3 separate regions of the Homo sapiens genome follow, and regions 1 and 2 are each linked to region 3. Evidence: fine-mapped expression QTL. A gene starts in region 3. Each other region holds a variant in brackets. All regions are shown on one strand. Distances are between the middles of the regions.

The links.
Region 1: its variant is fine-mapped to the expression of TELO2 in subcutaneous fat (GTEx, PIP above 0.99).
Region 2: its variant is fine-mapped to the expression of TELO2 in putamen (GTEx, PIP 0.97).

The regions. Positions count from the first base shown.
Region 1 is chr16:928,648-931,399 of GRCh38, reverse strand. The region is part of intron 3 of LMF1 (lipase maturation factor 1); the gene reads left to right. The region is part of intron 1 of LMF1-AS1 (LMF1 antisense RNA 1); the gene reads right to left. Among named protein-coding and RNA genes, the nearest start is that of LMF1-AS1, 9.0 kb to the right of the region's middle. RefSeq lists enhancers at 1,440-2,021, 2,022-2,605. The variant C/T (reference allele first, on the strand shown) is at 1,312.
Region 2 is chr16:1,388,358-1,391,109 of GRCh38, reverse strand. It overlaps UNKL (unk like zinc finger), which reads left to right. Exons shown (of 15, transcript NM_001372107.1): 9 at 416-478. Among named protein-coding and RNA genes, the nearest start is that of UNKL-AS1, 19 kb to the left of the region's middle. The variant C/A (reference allele first, on the strand shown) is at 1,419.
Region 3 is chr16:1,492,139-1,494,853 of GRCh38, reverse strand. TELO2 (telomere maintenance 2) reads right to left here and starts at 1,494. Exons shown (of 21, transcript NM_016111.4): 1 at 1,249-1,494; 2 at 238-608. The coding sequence starts at 572. RefSeq lists silencers at 1,057-1,256, 1,267-1,316, 1,487-1,576 and enhancers at 789-1,689, 1,787-1,836.

The DNA.
Region 1 (2,752 bases), 560 kb after region 3:
GGGCGGGGCACGGGGTCGGTCACTGGGACCCTGCGGCCCGCAAAGCAGCATCCTCAGGCAGTGCGTGCCCCGAGGCAGCAGCCAGCCGGCTCTAGGTGGGCCAGGCTTCCAGGGCCCCCACCCAGCCCGGCCACTGGGCACATGTGTTTCTAAAATTAATTAAAACTAAATGAAATAAAAAGCTCCAGTCCTTGGTTGCGTTGGCTGCACCTCATGTGCTCCGTGGCCGCATGTAGCTGTGGCTTCCCCACTGGGCGGTCCCAGACCTTTTTTTTTTTTGAGATGGAGTCTCGCTCTGTCGCCCAGGCTGGAGAGCAGTGGTGCGATCTTGGCTCACTGCAAGCTCCACCTCCTGGGTTCAAGTGATTCTCCTGCCTCAGCCTCCCGAGTAGCTGGGATTACAGGCGCCCGCCACCACGCCCGGCTAATTTTTGTATTTTTAGTAGAGATGGGATTTCACAGTGTTGGCCAGCCTGGTCTCCAACTCCTGACCTCAGGTAACCCGCCCACCTCAGCCTCCCAAAGTGCTGGGATTACAGGCATGAGCCATTGCGCCCGGCCCCAGACCATTCTCAGCCCAGCAGTCTGCAGAGGCTGCCAGTCAAAGATCCTAACATTTCACCAGCAGCAAACCCTGCCTTCTGAGGGCTCGTGGCTCGGCGTGGGCTCCCCGGGACATGCTCTCACAATGCTGTGGGTGTGAGCGGGACCCGCCTGAAAATACACACGGCTGCTCTTAGTGAAACGGCCGCTGGCCGGGAAGTCCGCACAGCCCCCGTCGCTAGTGTCTTCCTTTTTCTCAGGATGACCACACCATCCACAGAATGTTTACGTTTCTTTTCTTTTCAAGGCAGAGTCTTGCTCTGTCACCCAGGCTGGAGTGCAGTGGTGCAATCTCAGCTCCTTGACCTCCCGGGCTCAGGCGATCCTCCCGCCTCAGCCTCCCGATTAGCTGGGACTACAGGCGCACTGTCATGGCCAGCTAATTTTTAACTTTTTGTGGAGATGGGGTCCCACTGTGCTGCCCAGGCTGGTCTTTGGGTCTCCGTTCACATCTCTCTACTGTTGTAAGAGCCCCTCCAGCGAGCTCGCCTGCTGCTGTCCTGGGCTCTGTGTCCCAGGGTCCTGCGCCCCTGTTCAGACGGACGCGACTGCTGCTGTCCTGGGCTCTGTGTCCCAGGGCCCTGCACCCCTGTTCAGACGAACACGACCGCTGCTGTCCTGGGCTCTGTGTCCCAGGGTCCTGCGCCCCCGTTCAGACGGACGCCACCACTGCTGTCCTGGGCTCTGTGTCCCAGGGTCCTGCGCCCC[C/T]GTTCAGACGGACGTGACCACTGCTGTCCTGGGCTCTGTCCCAGGGCCCTGTGCCCCCGTTCACACGGACGCGACCACTGCTGTCCTGGGCTCTGTGTCCCAGGGTCCTGCGCCCCCGTTCAGACAGAGGCGACTGCTGCTGTCCTGGGCTCTGTGTCCCAGGGCCCTGTGCCCCCGTTCACACGTACACGACCACTGCTGTCCTGGGCTCTGTGTCCCAGGGCCGTGCGCCCCCGTTCACAGACGGACGTGACTGCTGAGCAGGATGAAGCTGCGTTCGTCAGGGCCGCGCTTTCCAGGACGCAGGAAAACCACAATATTTGTTAAACCCCATTCTGCCGTCTGTGTTTCTGCTGGAGTTTAGATAGAGCTGAGCTTTGAGGGCTGCTGAGTTTGGTAACATTCACTTCAAAGAAGGAGCCTGACGGTAATGAATTCCGCAGCCCCGAATGTGGCCGCTTCCTGCCGCCCTGCAGCGAGTGCACCTTTTGATATTCAGTGAGCCTGGATCTGGGAGTGTCTCGAGCTTCCAGCCGCCCTTGCGCATTGGAAAGGATGCGGGAACCCGAGAGGACCCGCAGCAGCGGGTGGCAGGGCTCCGTGGGGCTGCCTGCTTTCCCTCCAGGACCAGACCGCCTTTGCCGGCACCCTCCCGACAATGCACCGTCCCCCAAGTGTGGGCCTGACCCCCAGTTTGGCCCCATCCCCTGAGTGTGGACCCTGTCCTCCAGCGTGGTCCCCGTCCCCCATGGGGCGCCATGCCTAGCACCTGGTTCTGTATGGAGAGCGGGCTCTGGGAAGGGGCTCCCGTCTGCAGAGTTTGGTGAGGTTGAAACAGCAAAGGCCACAGCCGTTGTTCTGGGACTGAGACCAGGGCCGGTCCCCAGTGCTTCTGGAGACGCTTTCTGGCCCCTCCCAGGCCTGGGGCAGCTGGGAGGGATGGCTGGGCTTTTCAGGCGCGGGATGGGACAGCATTGTGACCCCACTGGCCGCTGAGATGTGACCAGGGGAAGGAGACACTCGTGGTGAGGGGTTCTGGAACCAGGGGCAGCCTTGTGTGAGTAGGGGGCAGAGTGCACAGGCGCCAGGGCAGGGCTTCCTCTGGCTCAGCTCCTGGGCCACTTTGCCAGGTCTTTGTGCCCAGATAGAGTCCCAGAGGAAGACCAACAGGTTCCCAAGGCCTTTGGAGTGTTTTAGGCCCCCAAAATCGTTTTGTAATTTCTTTGTGATTTTAGCCTGATGGACTTGGGTGTGTACGGGTGTCTACCTCCAGGCGATCCTACCCCCATCTTGCACCACTGGGCCCCCATGGGGGTGTAGGGATGGGCCCGTGGGGGCGTGGGGATGGGCCCGTGGGGGTGTGGGGTGGGCCCGTGGGGATGTGGGGAGGGGCTCGTGGGGGCGTGGGGATGGGCTCGTGCAGGGAACCGGGCTGTTGATG
Region 2 (2,752 bases), 100 kb after region 3:
GGTATGACCTTGGCTCACTGCAGCCTCCACCTCCTGGGTTCAAGCGATATCCTTTTTTAAATTTTTTATTCTATTTTTTGAGACGGAGTTTCACTCTTGTTGCCCAGGCTGGAGTGCAATGGTGCCATCTCGGCTCACTGCAACCTCCACCTCCTGGGTTCAAGCGATTTTCTTGCCTCAGCCTCTCGAGGAGCTGAAACTACAGGCATGTGCCACCACGCCTGGCTATTTTTTGTGTTTTTAGTAGAGACAGGTTTTCACCATGTTGGCCAGGCTGGTCTCGAACTCCTGAGCTCAGATGATCCGCCCGCCTCAGCCTCCCAAAGTGCTGCCACTGTGCCCAGCCTGAATTGTATGTTTTTAATTTACATTTCCTCCCTGCTTTTTCCACATATGACTGTTTTTTATGTTGCAGGCCAAGCGGAGAGACTCGCCGGCCGAGGGTGGCCCTAGGGGCAGCGAGCAAGACAGCAAGCAGGTACAGGCCCCCAAGGTTTCCCACCCTCGTGCCTGATGTCGCGTTAGGGCTGAGGCTTCCCGCCCTCGTGCCTGACCCGTGGCATCGCGTTAGGGCAGCGCTCATGCATCCTTGGTCCCGCCCACTCTCGGCTCGCAAAGCCATCTGGTTGACGTCCGCTTGTTGTAGAATTAGCTCTTTCCTGGTACCCCCGTGTTTGTCTGTTTGAAACGTTCGTGTTATACCTTGGAAACAAAGCCACAACATCGTGCTCGGGGAAATAAGAGGGGCCCTTTGGAGCCCATCTGTGTTACTTTTTTGGGCTGCGAGGGAAGGATGCAGATGGGGCCGTTCCAACAGCAGAACTTGCCGGGCACGGTGGCTCACACCTGTAATCTCAGCACTTTGAGAGGCCAAGGTGGGCGGATCACGAGGTCAGGAGTCCGGGACCAGCCTGGCCAACATGGTGAAACCCCATCTGTACTAAAAATACAAAATATTAGCCAGGCATGGTGGCACGTGCCTGTAGTCCCAGCTACTCGGGAAGCTGAGGCAGGAGAATTGCTTGAAGCCGGGAGGTGGAGATTGCAGTGAGCCGAGATCGTGCCACTGCACTGCATCCTGGGTGACACTGTGAGACTCTGTCTCTGAATGAATGAATGAATGAATGAATGAGGTAGTTTTAGTTGGGCACAGTAGCTCACACCTGTGGTTCCAGTACTTTGGGAGGCTGAGGCAAGAGAATTGCTGGAGCCCAGGAGGTGGAGGTTGCAGTGAGCCAAGCACTCCAGCCTGGGCGACAGAGTGAGGCCCTGTCTCAAACCAAACCAAAACCAATCCCCAAGCAGCAGCACTTGACTCTCTCAGTTCTGGGGGCTGAGTCCGAGCTTGAGCTGTCCAGAGCTGGCTCCTGAGGCCCCCCGGGTGCAGATGCTGCCTCCTCCGTGTCCTCTGGGGTCAC[C/A]CCTCTGTGCGTGGGCATCCCTGGGGTCTCTTCCTGAGGACAGTGGCTGCGTAGGGCCCTGCCCCCACACCTCATTTCATTGTTGCTGTTGTGTTTTTACAGATTCTTAAATTTTTTGAGGCAGGGTCTGGCTGTGTCACCCAGGTGTAGTGCAGTGGCCAAGTCCCAGCTCACTGCAGCCCGGGACTCCCAGGCTTGAAGCAGTCCTCCCACTTCAGCCTTCTGAGTTGCTGGGACCCCAGGCATACACCACCAGGCTTGGCTAATTTTTGTATTTTTTTAGAAATGGGGTTGCCCAGCCTGTTCTCGAACTCCTAGGCTCAAGCAATCCTCCTGCTTTGACCTCCCAAAGTGTTGGGATTACAGGTGTGAGCCTCCACGCCTGGAGTAAGAACTCATTTCACCTTAATTACTCCTCACAGGCCCTATCTCCAAATTTAGTCACACCGGGGGTCAAGGCTTCCACGTAGGAATTTGGGGGGGACACGTTTGGTCCATAACAAAGACACTGTGCTGACTGAAATGAGCCAGTTACCGAAAGGCAAAACCTGCGTGATTCCACTCACAGGAGGTCTCTAGTGGAGTCACATTCACAGACAGCAGGTGGCATGGTGGGGGCCGGGGCCGGGGCCGGGGGAGGGGGCAAGTGTTCACGGGGTCAGAGCTTCCGGCTGGAAGATGAGGAGTTCTGGAGGTGGACGCGGTGATGGCTGCACAGCGGTGTGGATGGAATTCATGCCACGTACTACACCAAACCATGGCCACTGTAGCAAATTTTATATTATATTTCACTATAATACAGAGAAGAAAAACCAGGCAGGCAGTGCTGGTGGTAGCTTGGGGTGTGCTGTCCCCACGGGGCGAACGGTGCTGGTGTTAGCGGAGGTGCGGTGTCCTCATGGTGTGAACGGTGCTGGTGGTAGCGGAGGTGTGGCGTCCCCACGGGGAGAACGGTGCCGGTGTTAGTGAAGGTGCGGGATCCTCACGGAGCTCTCGTCTGACCCCTCTCACTGTGCCCATCCCTCATGTGGATGGACTCCCACACCAGGCCCGTCATCTGTGGCCATTGTGCCTTGGGGTACAAGGAGTGACATGGATGTTGATGATTTTCAGGTGATCGTTTGGGCTGAAGTCACAGTGTGCGCATCACCCTGGCCAGCTCCCGGGCAGGGTCAGCATGGGGTCTGGGGGGTCACTCAGGGCTGAGGCTTCCTCTCTGGTCCCTGTTGGTTTATGGCCTCCAGTAGGCTGGGGAAGGCCTCCGGGGTGGAGTCCCCTCCTGCAGACAGGCGGGAAGGAGGCGGCCTTGGCTTCTGAGGGTGCTGCATTCACCC
Region 3 (2,715 bases):
TCCCTCTCTGACACAGCCGGACGGGGAGCAAGTGGGGGACTTTGTGAGACACAGCAGGTGCCTCCCGTCGCAAAGGAGACAGACACAGACCGCTTCTTCTGTTCAGGGGTTCAGCCAGGAGCAGGCTCTCTCTCTAGCCCCTCACAGGGACTAGAGAGGCTCTTGGTCCAGTCCTTCAAGCCACTCTCATCACTTCTGAGGCTACCGGCAACCCCAGGATGGGCCCAGCCCACTCACCCCGCAGCACCCTCGATGGTCTCCATCAACACCAGGAAGGCTTGGTCCGCCGGGCCCTCCAGGAAGAAGCTGGCCCACAGCTCCTCCAGGCGGCCATGGGGCAGCAGCTCCAGCCAGGCTGGGCTCAGCCTGCTGGCAAGACATCTGAGGACAGGCGAGAAGTGGGCCGAGGCAAACTCCTCCTTCTCCCTCGGGAGCGCTGGAGGCTCCATCTCACCGAGATACCGCTTCAGGGACTCCAGGGTGCAGAAGATGTGGCCGCCATCCTCCGAAGACGAGAGGGCATGAATGGCTTCCCGGACGGCGAGTCGAACCTCTGAGGGTGCTGGCTCCATCCTGCAGGACAGATCTGGGCGTCACGGGAAGACGACCTGTGACATGGACACAGGGCTCAGCTTGGGGCACGGAAATAATCCACACAAGCTCAGGAAGCCCCTCGGTGAGCGCCCCGAGACCCCACACCCCTCAACCCTGGTCCCACCCAACCCTGTCCCGCCTCCTTCCCCTCCAGTGCCTGCCGGTTTCCACCCAGAGTTCGCTCCTCCGCTCGGACCCCAACGCTACCAGCCACTGCAGGGCTTCTCAACCCGGGCCACTGTGCCCAGGGAACATTCTCAGTTGTCTCAACCGGGAGTGCCACTGGCGCGAGAGGGAGGTGGAGGCTAGAGATGCTGGTGAGTGTTCCCCGGGCACAGCGCGGCCCCACGCGTCCTCGCACCCAAGGCGGGAAACTCGGCCCGCGGGAGCTGCCGGCCCTCCCGGCTCCCTGAGCGGTGAGAGGTGGCTCCAGTCGCCATTCCTCCGCCCCTTAGAAACCAACAGCTTACGGGGAACACGGGTTCGGGGCTAGAGGAGCCGCACGCGGACCCGCCCCCGATCCAGGCCCGGACCCCGACCTGTACCCGGACCCCGACCGGACTCCTACCCGACCTGGACCCGACCCAACCAGACCTGGAGCCCAACCCGACCCAACCGGACCCCCGATCCCCGATCCCCGACCCCCAACCCGACCTGGACCCGGCTCCCGGGTGACTGCAGCGCGCTCAGGCGCCGCGCGCCACCGATTCGCTGCAGCCGATTCCCCACGGCCGCCGCGGCCCCGGACGAAACGCGATCGCGGCCCAGCCGGTTGGCCCCGAGCACGAGTTCCTGGGTCCGGGCGAGGCTCCCGCGGGTTTTCTTGAGCCTCTGGGGCGGGTCTCCGCGGGCCTCTCAGCGCGAATCTGCGGAGGACGCCAGGCGGGAGGGCGCATCTGCGCCTGCGCTGCGCGGGGACGGGGCGGAGCCTGGACGCGGGAGCGGGGGGCGGTGGGGTGGGCGGGGCCTGACGCGTGAGTGGGGCGGGGCCTGAGGGCAGGGCCGCGCTTCCCCACGTGGCTGCGAGCTGGGTTCGCTGCGCCCGGGTGGTGGGTTCTCGCCTTAGTTTCTCCCATCTCGGTCGTCCCTACCCTGGAGTGATGTCAGCCGTCTCTTCCCTCCGCCTCGGGTCCCACATTCTCTCCAGAACGCCGAGCGTTCGCTCTAAGGCAGATGTTTACCAAGACAGGCCTGGCTCGTCTTCCCCGGATGTAAGGCTCTGCTTTCAAGGGTCAGAGGCCAGTAAGGGAAACGCACGGTACACAAGGAAGTAAAAGAGCAGTTGAGATCATGTCAGATCTGAACAATTGCAGCTCCGTAAATGAGGCCGGGTCGTGGAATAAAAACTGCGACCAGTAGGGTAAGCGCTAGACGCATGTGGCTCTGTAAATTAACTGAAGTTAAATAAGTCCAGTTCCCTTGCAGCACTAGCCCCATCTCAAGGGCTCGGTACTACCTTTGGCTGTGGCCGCCAGGCTGGACAGCCGGACACTGAACATTTACAACATGCAGTGCCTTCTGTACACCGCAGCGGAGTGTGGGGGGCTTCATCTTTGTGGAGGGGGCAATCCAGGAAGACACCTAAAGAGGCGCCATTTCAGCAGTGATGGATGTGGGAAAAGCTGGGGAACAGTTATCCATTCAACAAACATTGATTAAATGCCTGCTTGGTGCACCAAGCCTTCTGAGCAACAAATGATGCAAAGTTCCTGCTCACCTATCGGGGGAACAGATAAAGTACATACGAAATATGCCAGGTGACAGGCCTCGAGCAGAAAAACTGGCAGAGGCCGGGCCCGGTGGCTCACGCCGGTAATTCCAGCACTGGGAAGCTGAGGTGGGAGAATCGTTTGCACCCAGAAGTTCAAGAATGGGAAAAATAGTGAGACCCTGTCTCTACAAAAAATTTAAAAATTAGCCAGGCACGGTGTCATGAGCCTGTGATCCCAGCTACTCAGGAGGCTGAGGTGGGAGGATGGCTTGAGCCCGGGAGGTTGAGGCTGCAGTGAGCCATGTTCACTGCCACTGCACTCCAGCCTGGACAACAGAGCAAGACCCTGTTTCAAAAAAAAAAAAGGAATCAAAATAAAAAACCGGTAGGGTAAGAAAATAAGAGCCAGT